Homo sapiens: one gene and its partners. The protein of the gene in region 3 purifies or fractionates together with the protein of the main gene of each other region. This does not show direct contact. Each region holds a gene or a part of one and is shown on either strand. Other genes may lie near its edges.

Region 1 (3,661 bases), on a different chromosome or scaffold from region 3:
TATCCTCTTCACTTCTTCACCTTTGTTGTTGAACATTCTACAATACAAAGTATGACATGATGGAATGTTCTCCAAGCTTAGGTAGTCCTGGAGGCTTCTTTATTCTTTGTACTACAGAACAAAAAAGGAATACATGCTCTCCTTCAAGATAAAGGTGCTGGTTGTAATAATAATAATAATAATACAATAATAATATTTATTGAGCATATGTATGTGCCAATTGCTTTGTAAGCACGTTAGAGCACTATTATCTTATTCATCCACACAGTAACCATTTAACAGATGAGGAAATTAGTCCTGGGGAACTGGGTAACTTGCCTCAAGTCCCTCTACTAAGTGACAAGGTGGGGATTAGAACCTGACTTTTTCAATAGCTGTTTTACTGAAGAAAGAGAAGGGCTGGGCAGACTGTGAGTGGCTTGGCAGTGCGGCATTCCGTGTGCGGCCCATGTGCTGATTTCCTAGCACCCCAAACATAGCTCTGATCATTGTTGGGAATTCACCTGATGAGTCCTGGAACTTCAGTTCCCCAAGGAACAGGCCCGGACACCGGCAACACAAAGCGACCGTTATTATTCTGAACTTTGTCCTTTAGAAACATGGATACCTGGAAAAAAATACATTTATTGTCATTTTTCTTGGTATATTTTCATAGACATCAATATTCTGAGGGTGGAAAGTGCGTAATGGTTTGGGAACATGACCTATGAGTTTATAACAATAAGAAGGGAGAGGCTGGGCGCAGTGGATCATGCCTGTAATCCCAGCACTTTGAGAGGCTGAGGCAGGCGGATCATGAGGTCAGGAGATAGAGACTATCCTGGCTAACACGGTGAAACCCTGTCTCTACTAAAAATACAAAAAATTAGCCGGGCGTGGTGGTGGGCACCTGCAGTCTCAGCTACTCAGGAGGCTGAGGCAGGAGAATTGCTTGAACCTGGAAGGCAGAGGTTGCAGTGAGCCAAGATCGTGCCATTGCACTCCAGCCTGGGCGACAGAGTAAGACTTCATCTCAAAAAAATAAAAAAATAAAAAAAAGAAGGGAGAAAAAATTACACTTGCAGAGTTAACTGTATTTTAACAAACAGAACTATTTTTTTTTTTGAGATAGGGACTCACTTTGTCACCCAGGCTGGAGTGCAGTGGCACGATCTTGCCTCACTGCCACCTCAGCCCCGCCAGCTCACGCGATTCTCCCGTCATAGCCCCCAAGTAGCTGGGACCACAGGTGTGAGCCACTGTGCCCAGCTAATTTTTATATTTTTTTGTAGAGATGGGTTTTCGCCATGTTGGCCAGGCTCAAAATCCTAAGCCCAAGTGATCTGCCTGCCTCGGCCTCCCAAAGTGCTGGGATTACAGGCGTGAGCCACCGTGCTCGGCTACAAACAGAACTACTTTTGAGCAGCGCAGCAAACCTTCCAGGTGAGTCCTATTACCCCCATTTTAAAGACGAGAAAGCTAAAGTAGAGAGTGAAGTGACTTGCCCAAAGAGAGCTAAGAGGCAGGGCCAGGATTCAAAACCAAAGGTGACTCCAAATTCCACCCGTATGCCTTGGTTCCCTGCCTACTTTCCATGCAGCTGCAGGCCTTGAGCTGTAAGAACCTCATATGGCCACTTTCTACATGAGGCAGCTCAGAGGTTAAGATGCCTCCTCAAGGTCAGCCAGCTGGTAAGGGGCAGAGCTGAGGATTCAAACTCCTGTGATTCTGACTTTGGAGCCCGAACCTTATCCACATGCTGGACTAGAAAGAAGGATGGGGCTGGGGCAGGGGGATCCAGCTGACATTTAAGTTTGAGGATCTTTTAGGTGACTGAAAACACATTACACTTATTCCTTCTCCTGGGTTCGTGTACTCTGTATAGAGGTTTCGGTCACTCACAGATTAAATCTCATAAAGATAGTAGCAGTTAATCAGTTTTACTGGGTCTTGGCTTCCTTATCTGTAAAATAAGAGATGAGCTTGAAGATCTTTTCAACTCTAATATTCTATAAGGTTATATTAGTAATATAATCAAGAATAAGTATCTTAGGCTGGGTGTGGTGGCTTACGCCTGTAATCCTAGCACTTTAGGAGGCTGAGGCGGGTGGATCACCTGAGGTCAGGAGTTCGAGACCAGCCTGGCCAACATGGTGAAACCCTGTGTTTAATAAAAATAAAAAAATTACCAGGGTGTGGTGGCTCATGCCTGTAATCCCAGCTACTCACAAGGACAAGGCACGAGAATCGCTTGAACCCCAGAGGTGGAGGTTGCAGTGAGCCGAGATCATGCCACTGCACTCCAGCCTGGGCAACAGAGCAAGACTCTGTCTCAAAAAAAAAAAAAAAAATGGAAAGAATAAGCATTTGTTGTGTGCAAGGCAGTGAAAATGCAAAGCGATAAGAATGTGTGAGCTGGCAGCTTGGCATACTGATGTTAGACTCTGAAGGCTTAAATACTGGACGGGCCACTTCTGGGTTTTTGGGAAATTACACAACCTTTCTGTGCATCAGTTTTCCCTTTGGTAACCTGGGGGTAATAATAGTAATAATAATAGATAACTCGGTGGGTTACTGTGACAACTAAATCAGACAGTGTATAAAAAGTAAAGCCGGCTGGGTACAGTGGCTCACGCCAGTAATCCCAGCACTTTGGGAGGCTGAGGCGGGAGGATCATGAGGTCAGGAGTTCAAGACCAGCCTGGCCAACATGGTGAAACCCTGTCTCTACTAAAAATACAAAAAATTAGCTGGGTGTGGTGGCATGTGCCTGTAATCTGGCTACTCGGGAGGCTGAGGCAGGAGAATCGCTTGAACCCAGGAGGTGGAGGTTGCATTGAGCTGAGACCTTGTCACTGTATTCCAGCCTGGGCAACAGAGCAAGACTCTATCTGGAAAAAAAAAAAAAAAAGCAAAGGCTGACACATAGACTATGTGCTCAATAAATGGTAGCCAATACTCTTATTATTACAAGTCTATTTGGACACAGGACACAAGCATAAAATGGAGAAAATAACACTTTAAAGCAGGACATGCTACATAGCAGGTGCATAGAAGCTTGCTGAGGAGAATGACTGCTGGCATGCCGGGAGTCTGGGGGGAGGCAGGCGTGACTGTGGGTCTGGAGCTGAGCCTGGAGGAAGAAGGTAGGTGTAGAGACACTTCAGAGATGGAGATGAGCAGGTGTGAGTCACGTTTTCAGGGGAACATGTAAACTGGTTTGGTCAGAGGGTTTGCTGGATGACGTTTAAGACATTTTTAACCTCAAGATTCTGTGACCAAGGGATGTGAGTACAAGAAAGGAGAAAGAAAATTTAGAGGGAGAATTGGGAATATTTATATGTGCTAGAAACTCTGTTAGTTTAATCTTATGAGGTTGACTATGGCATGGTAGATCTGAAATGTACAAATTTAGGTCATGTGTGTGTCTGTGTTTGGCCTGAGACTCTGCCAGTGGCTGGAGAGGACTGTTAGGTCTGTTTGCTTGCTCAGCCCCTCTGCTGGCCTTTTCTTCTCCCTCCACCCTTTCCTTTCCGAGGTGATCTCGTCTCCTCCCATACTCCAGGGCTCACCTCTGAGCTCATGGCTCCCAGATCTCAAGGTCCCACTCCAGCTCCTTCCCTGGCACTGACCCATCCATCCCATTGCCTGTCACACATTTCCATCTATGGGTCCCCTAGGA
Region 2 (2,580 bases), on a different chromosome or scaffold from region 3:
TTCTGTGCCTGTTTTGGCAGTGTATCAAAAGGGAGTTCATGCTAAATACTTTGTTAAATCTATCCACTTCTCCAGTGAATAAACTGTATACCATTTTAAGAGATAAGGTTTAGATTATTTTTGAAAATGCCTTTTGGCCTGGGGTATGCCCGCTATTACCTTTGCTTAAAAACTTGGGTTCAGGAAATTTCTACCTTAGAGAAGTAAGATTCTCTAAAAGAATGTTTCACTTCCTCATGGATACTTTATGGGGGCATTAGCATGAAGTGAAGAAATTCTTTGAAGTTTCCAGAAAGATGGGTCCCAGGAAGCTTAGAATTTATGCATAAGTAAATGACTTTATGTCCTTCTATTTGAATGTAACTTCAAATCATAATCATCAGTTGAACACATGTTGACTTTGCTTCACAGATTTGCCAGCATTCCTTTATTTTCCTGTGTGTCTGGCTCTCTATTATTACTTCAATACAGGTTCCCATAGACAAAGCCCCCAGCCCCTCCCGCAAATACAACAGGCGTTGTGGTCTCATAAAATTTTCAGTCAGAAAAATACCCCAAAATAAGCTTTATTGCAAGAAAAGTGTCATATTTGATACACAGACCTACAAAAACAAACAAAACCAAAAACCATAAGTTTTTCCTCACAAACTCTTGATTACAAATTTACACTGTTCCTTTTTTCTTTTTAGTTATTAAAAAAACAATAAAACCTCAAAATACTGGGTATAACTGGTTACTAATCTTTGGTCAGCACAGGTTTGAGAGGAACAACCAGGAGCCTGCATGTGCTTTGGCCATTTCACATATGAGGTTTGGTCACTGGTCCAGGAAACAGGTTCTTGGGTTGAGAAGAATAATGGATACGTGCTCTTAATAGCACATCCTGGTACAATATCTTTTTAAATGACTAAAGCAAACTAAACATCAATTCATTGTACAAACATCTTTCATACACAATAGGCTATGATAAAATGAGGCATATGGTGTATAACTACAGTATTAATGAAAATTCTAAAAAAAAAATGGGTTTAAAACAACAACAACAACATATATTCCTTGGCTGCATTGCATGATTTGTTTGCACATATGGCAATCCTGAAATAACTTGAACATAATAAATGCACCATTATTTAAGACAGCACGAAACACCACAGAATGCCAGGTGTTCCCTTTCAAGGGAACGGCGGTTCTTCAGCTGCCTACAGTACCATGAGGACGCAGCGCACCCTGGGTAAGAATGAGGTGTTGTGGGTAGCACATATGGTTCCTTGAGGTTATGAGAAGGAAATACAGTACGGTTTGGCCTGCAATGCTAATGGTCTCACAAGCAGTCAAGGTATTTTGCTACAGTGGTTGTGCTTCAACTTCTGTTGCCTGGTGTGTCTGGTGATATGAAATGTTGTCACAAATGAGCTGCTTTGGCTTCGATCTACGTTATAAAGGATCTAATGACATTCATGTTTTTTAAATTATTGATTACACTGCCCATTCAGCTCTGTGTGGCTTTCTTTAAAATCATCAGGTGTGTATCAGCTGGATGACTGGCAGAAAACCAAAGGAAACATCTCTTGTATCTATTGGATTTTTAAAAAGCACCTCTAAAAAAAATAGCTCAAATTTATAAATCTAAAGAAAAACAAGTGAGTTTCCCTTTTTGTTTACATAGTTTGTTCATTTCTCCATATATTACTGCATTAAAAATAAATAAACATCTATATTTTTTTAATTAGCAACTATAGCAAAATACCCAAAGTGTTACAGACTGCTAACAGGAAAAAAAAAAAAAGCTCACATTATTTTTGTGCATTTAGTGCCATATGCTGATATCTTGAACATTTAGGTTTCTTTTAATATATTTTAAAATGAAGTTATATAAAAAATACAGTAACCACGGTTGCCTTTGTGCTCAAATCTTTGGCCATACCAGAGTCTAAATTATCCCTCCCTGTGAGGGTCAACATTCAAAGTCTAAGACAGGGAGGAAAGAAACAAGAGTTATTATTATTTTTCCTCTTTAAAATTAGTCCTTGACTTTTCAAATGCTTCTGCAGACTGGCTGTGCTAGGATTTGAGCCTGGGCCCAAGTCTGTGAAGGGTTAATAGAGCTGAATCTGCAGCCTCATTCTGAGAGCCTCCCCAAGCTCCCCTAGGAGGTAGTCATCCTCATTGCTCTCTTCCAGTTTCTTAAGCTCCTTCTTCTTGTAGAGAGGGATGCTAGTGATTTCCAGTGTGTATGTGCCGGGCATGAGCTTCTTCTTGGCCGTGTGCAAGTAGCTGAGCCCATTCCTTTGGTGGATGCGGAAGACGCTGTCATCGTTCCCTTGAGAGATGACATAACGGATGTGGTTGTTGAGGGGCTGGATGGCGGGCCTTAGTTCCAGGATGTGCTCCTTAGAGCCGAGGTGGGAGAGGTTGAACTTCATGTTGACGGGGCTGTCCATGTCGACACTCTCTAGGCTGATCTGTTCAACCTGGAGGAAGAACAGGAAATGATTTGGGACAAGCTTCTACAGCACAAGCAGAGGACTAGAAAGAGATCAGCTGCAGGGGCTTTGGTCACGAGGACAGGCTGTGGCTTCC
Region 3 (3,623 bases):
TAAGTTTTTTGGTTTTTTTTTAATAAAAACTAAATGCTATTTTTTCTTCTACTTTTAGTTGATGTGTAATAATTGTTCATATTTAGAAGATGCAGAGTGATATTTTGATACATGTATACAATGTGTAATGATCAAATCAGGGTAATTAGCATATCTATCACCTCAAACATTTGTCATTTTTTTATATTGGGAACATTCAGAATCGTCTCTTCTAGCTATTTGAAAATATACAGTAAATGATTGTTAACTACCGTCACCCTACAGTGCTATAGAACAGTGGACCCCTTTTGGCACCAGGGACCAGTTTTGTGGAAGACAGTTTTTTCGACGAGGTGAAGGTGGTGGTGGGGATGGTTTCAGGATGAAACTGTTCCACCTCAGGTCATCAGGCATTAGAGTCTCACAAGGAACACACATCCTAGATCCCTCACATGCACAGTTCACAATAGGGTTCATGCTCCTATGAGACTCTAATGCCTTGGCTGATCTGACAAGAGATGGAGCTCAGGTGGTGATGCTTGCACACCTGCTGTTCACCTTTTGCTGTGCAGCCTGGTTCCTAACAGGCCATGGACCAGTACCCATTGGCTGCCCAGGGGTTGGGGACCCCTGCTATAGGATGCTGGAACTTTTTCCTCCTATCTAGGTGTAATTTTCTATCTGTTAACCAACCTCTCTCTATCCTCCTTTCCCTTCCCAGCCTCTAGTAATCATTATTCTACAGTCTACTTCTATGAACTCAACTTTTTTAGCTCCTGCTTATGAATGAAAACATGTGGTATTTATCTTTTTGTGTCTATTTCACATAACGGAATGTAACATGTCCCCCAGGCTCATCCATGAGTCTGAGGCTTATTTGTAGCCTGGCTGCTGGGCTTCCCTGTGGGATTGTCCTCTGAGCAAACAGAACACAGCCATCCTGCTGGCCAGCAGTTGATAGATGATCTCATGATAATAACAGGTTATAACTCACCTTTTCTTGGATTTCTTGCTTTCCTGATTTCTACATTTCTCCACTGATTTTTTTTAAGGAGGAATTGTCTCTCAACTAAACTATTATATTCAAATCTTTGCTGGAGCTCTGCTCTGCTGGGGGTCTGCTTTAAGACTCTAGAGTCTTATTCTCCTGTTTTGATCTGACTTATCTTATTGGTCCTTTTAAGTCGTTTCCTCTTATCTGATCTCTTATCTCTTAATATTGAAACTCACTAGAATTTAATTCTAGTCCTCTTTTTTTCTCATATTATTCCAACCCACCATGGTTTACCAATTTCTGTACTTTAAATGCTATCCATAAGCAATCACATTTATTGATTTGCATATGTCGAACCAACCTTGCATTCCAAGGATAAAGGCTACTTGATCGTAGTGGATAAGCTTTTTGATGTGCTGCTGGATTCAGTTTGCTACTATTTTGTTCAGGATTTTTGCACTGATGTTCATCAAGGATACTGGCCTGAAATTTTTTTTTTCTTGTGTCTCTGCTAGGTTTTGGTCTCAGGATGATGCTGGCCTCATAGAATAAGTTAAAGCGGAGTCCTGCCTTCTCAATTTTGGGTGAATAGTTTCAGTAGGAATGATACCAGCTCTTCTTTGTATATCTGGTAGAATTCAGCTGTGAATCCATCTGGTCCTGGGCTTTTCATTTTCATCCTTTCTTTCTAGGTTTCGTATCAGTCTCAGTATGCTCTCTCTCTCTCCGTCCCTCTCTTTTTCTACATTTCTCCTTTTCTCCATACAACTTCTTTGATGGCACATAGCACAATTTTAATATACACTTTTTGTTCTCCTGTTTGTCTCTTACAATGGCTTTTTGTATTTGACATCATATTAGTCTAGATGTCAGTCAGTGTAAATTTTTGAATGAATGAAAAGTTGTTATGTTGATGCCAGAGTTAAAAATTTGACCTATATTTTATTCTCTACAGGTAGCTTTGAACCCCAAAAATGTTGGAAGAATAATGTAGGACATTGCAGAAGACGATGTTTAGATACTGAAAGGTACATACTTCTTTGTAGGAACAAGCTATCATGCTGCATTTCTATAATATCACATGAATATACTCGACGACCAGCATTTCCTGTGATTCACCTAGAGGATATAACATTGGATTATAGTGATGTGGACTCTTTTACTGGTTCCCCAGTATCTATGTTGAATGATCTGATAACATTTGACACAACTAAATTTGGAGAAACCATGACACCTGAGACCAATACTCCTGAGACTACTATGCCACCATCTGAGGCCACTACTCCCGAGACTACTATGCCACCATCTGAGACTGCTACTTCCGAGACTATGCCACCACCTTCTCAGACAGCTCTTACTCATAATTAATTAACATTTACTTCTGGTATGGAACAACTAGAAATACTGCTGGAAATAATATCCAAAGAGCTGATTCTACCAATCCAATTTCACCAGGAAAATTCCATCAGGGATTGGATGACCATGGGGATGGACATAATTGCTACTACCAACACAACAGCCAAGAGAGTTGCCTTACAATTAGAAATGTGTAGACAGAAATGTATAGAAGATACAAGGATTCTCTTAATTGGACTTAAATTCTTTATCTGTCTTCCTCCGATGTACTCAAATATATGAGCTAATTTTTGTCTTAAGTGAACATTTGTATATCTATGTATTTTTCCATGCCAAAAACAAAAACGAAGACCATTGTTTGGAGCTGCCTCTTATGACTAAGACAAGAATTTTTACTTTAACAGTGCCTGGCCCACTACTATCGTATATAGGAGAACATATAAAAGCATATAGAAAGTTCCAGATGAATGTTCCCTTCTCTACCCTCCACCTTTTATTGTAAGTTCTGACCCTAAATACTTTTCTGTGTCATGACGTCAAATTTTGTTTAAGGTTCTAGCTGGTAACTAACAGAGTCAGAAGCTAATTCTTTCATTCAACACAAGCACTGATCTAACTGGATAGAGATAAAAGTGGGACTTGCCTTGAGAGTACATCATATTAAATTAAAAGCTGCATCTCAAATTCTACTTATCTTTCCAATCTTCTTTCCACTTAGAATTCCAACTTCCAAGTATGGCAGCCTCATAACATGCCTCTTCAGGTCTCTGTGTTGTCCATGAATGTTAGTTGTGTGCAGTGTTTCTATGCTTTGTATGGCTGTACGCATGTGACTGCTGTTTGTATGGCAACAGGTGGGTCAGTAAGTGTCTTCTATGATACTACAGAGAAGCGGTTATTAACTATAAAGTTGATTAGGTTTTTTTTTTTTTTTGAGACAGAGTCTAGCTCTGTCGCCCAAGCTGGAGTGCAGTGGCATGATCTCGGCTCACTGCAAGCTCTGCCTCCTGGGTTAACGCCATTCTCCTGCCTCAGGCTCCCGAGTAACTGGGACTACAGGCACCCACTACCACACCTGGCTAATTTTTTGTATTTTTAGTAGAGAGGGGTTTCACCATGTTAGCCAGGATGGTCTCGATCTCCTAACCTCATGATCCATCCGCCTTGGCCTCCCAAAATGCTGGGATTACAGGTGTGAGCTACTGTGCCCGGCTGATTATTATTTTTTTTAAGTTCCAGGATAGAAGTGTAGAACATGTAGGTTTGTTACATAGGTATACATGTGCCATGATGG

What was found.
Region 1: the proteins of DEFB125 (region 3) and OSCP1 purify together in Homo sapiens (affinity purification with mass spectrometry; one large-scale study listed by BioGRID and IntAct). This does not show direct contact.
Region 2: the proteins of DEFB125 (region 3) and FBN2 purify together in Homo sapiens (affinity purification with mass spectrometry; one large-scale study listed by BioGRID and IntAct). This does not show direct contact.

Annotation. Positions count from the first base shown.
Region 1 is NC_000001.11:36,422,860-36,426,520, forward strand, and holds part of OSCP1 (protein OSCP1), read right to left. Parts: intron 608-3,661; coding exon 504-607; intron 112-503; coding exon of another isoform or gene 78-111; exon of another isoform or gene 38-77; coding exon 1-37. UniProt on the Homo sapiens protein: May be involved in drug clearance in the placenta.
Region 2 is NC_000005.10:128,257,359-128,259,938, forward strand, and holds the end of FBN2 (fibrillin-2 precursor), read right to left. Parts: intron 2,472-2,580; coding exon 2,097-2,471; 3' UTR 551-2,096; downstream 1-550.
Region 3 is NC_000020.11:94,077-97,699, forward strand, and holds the end of DEFB125 (beta-defensin 125 preproprotein), read left to right. Parts: intron 1-1,928; coding exon 1,929-2,341; 3' UTR 2,342-3,018; downstream 3,019-3,623. UniProt on the Homo sapiens protein: Has antibacterial activity.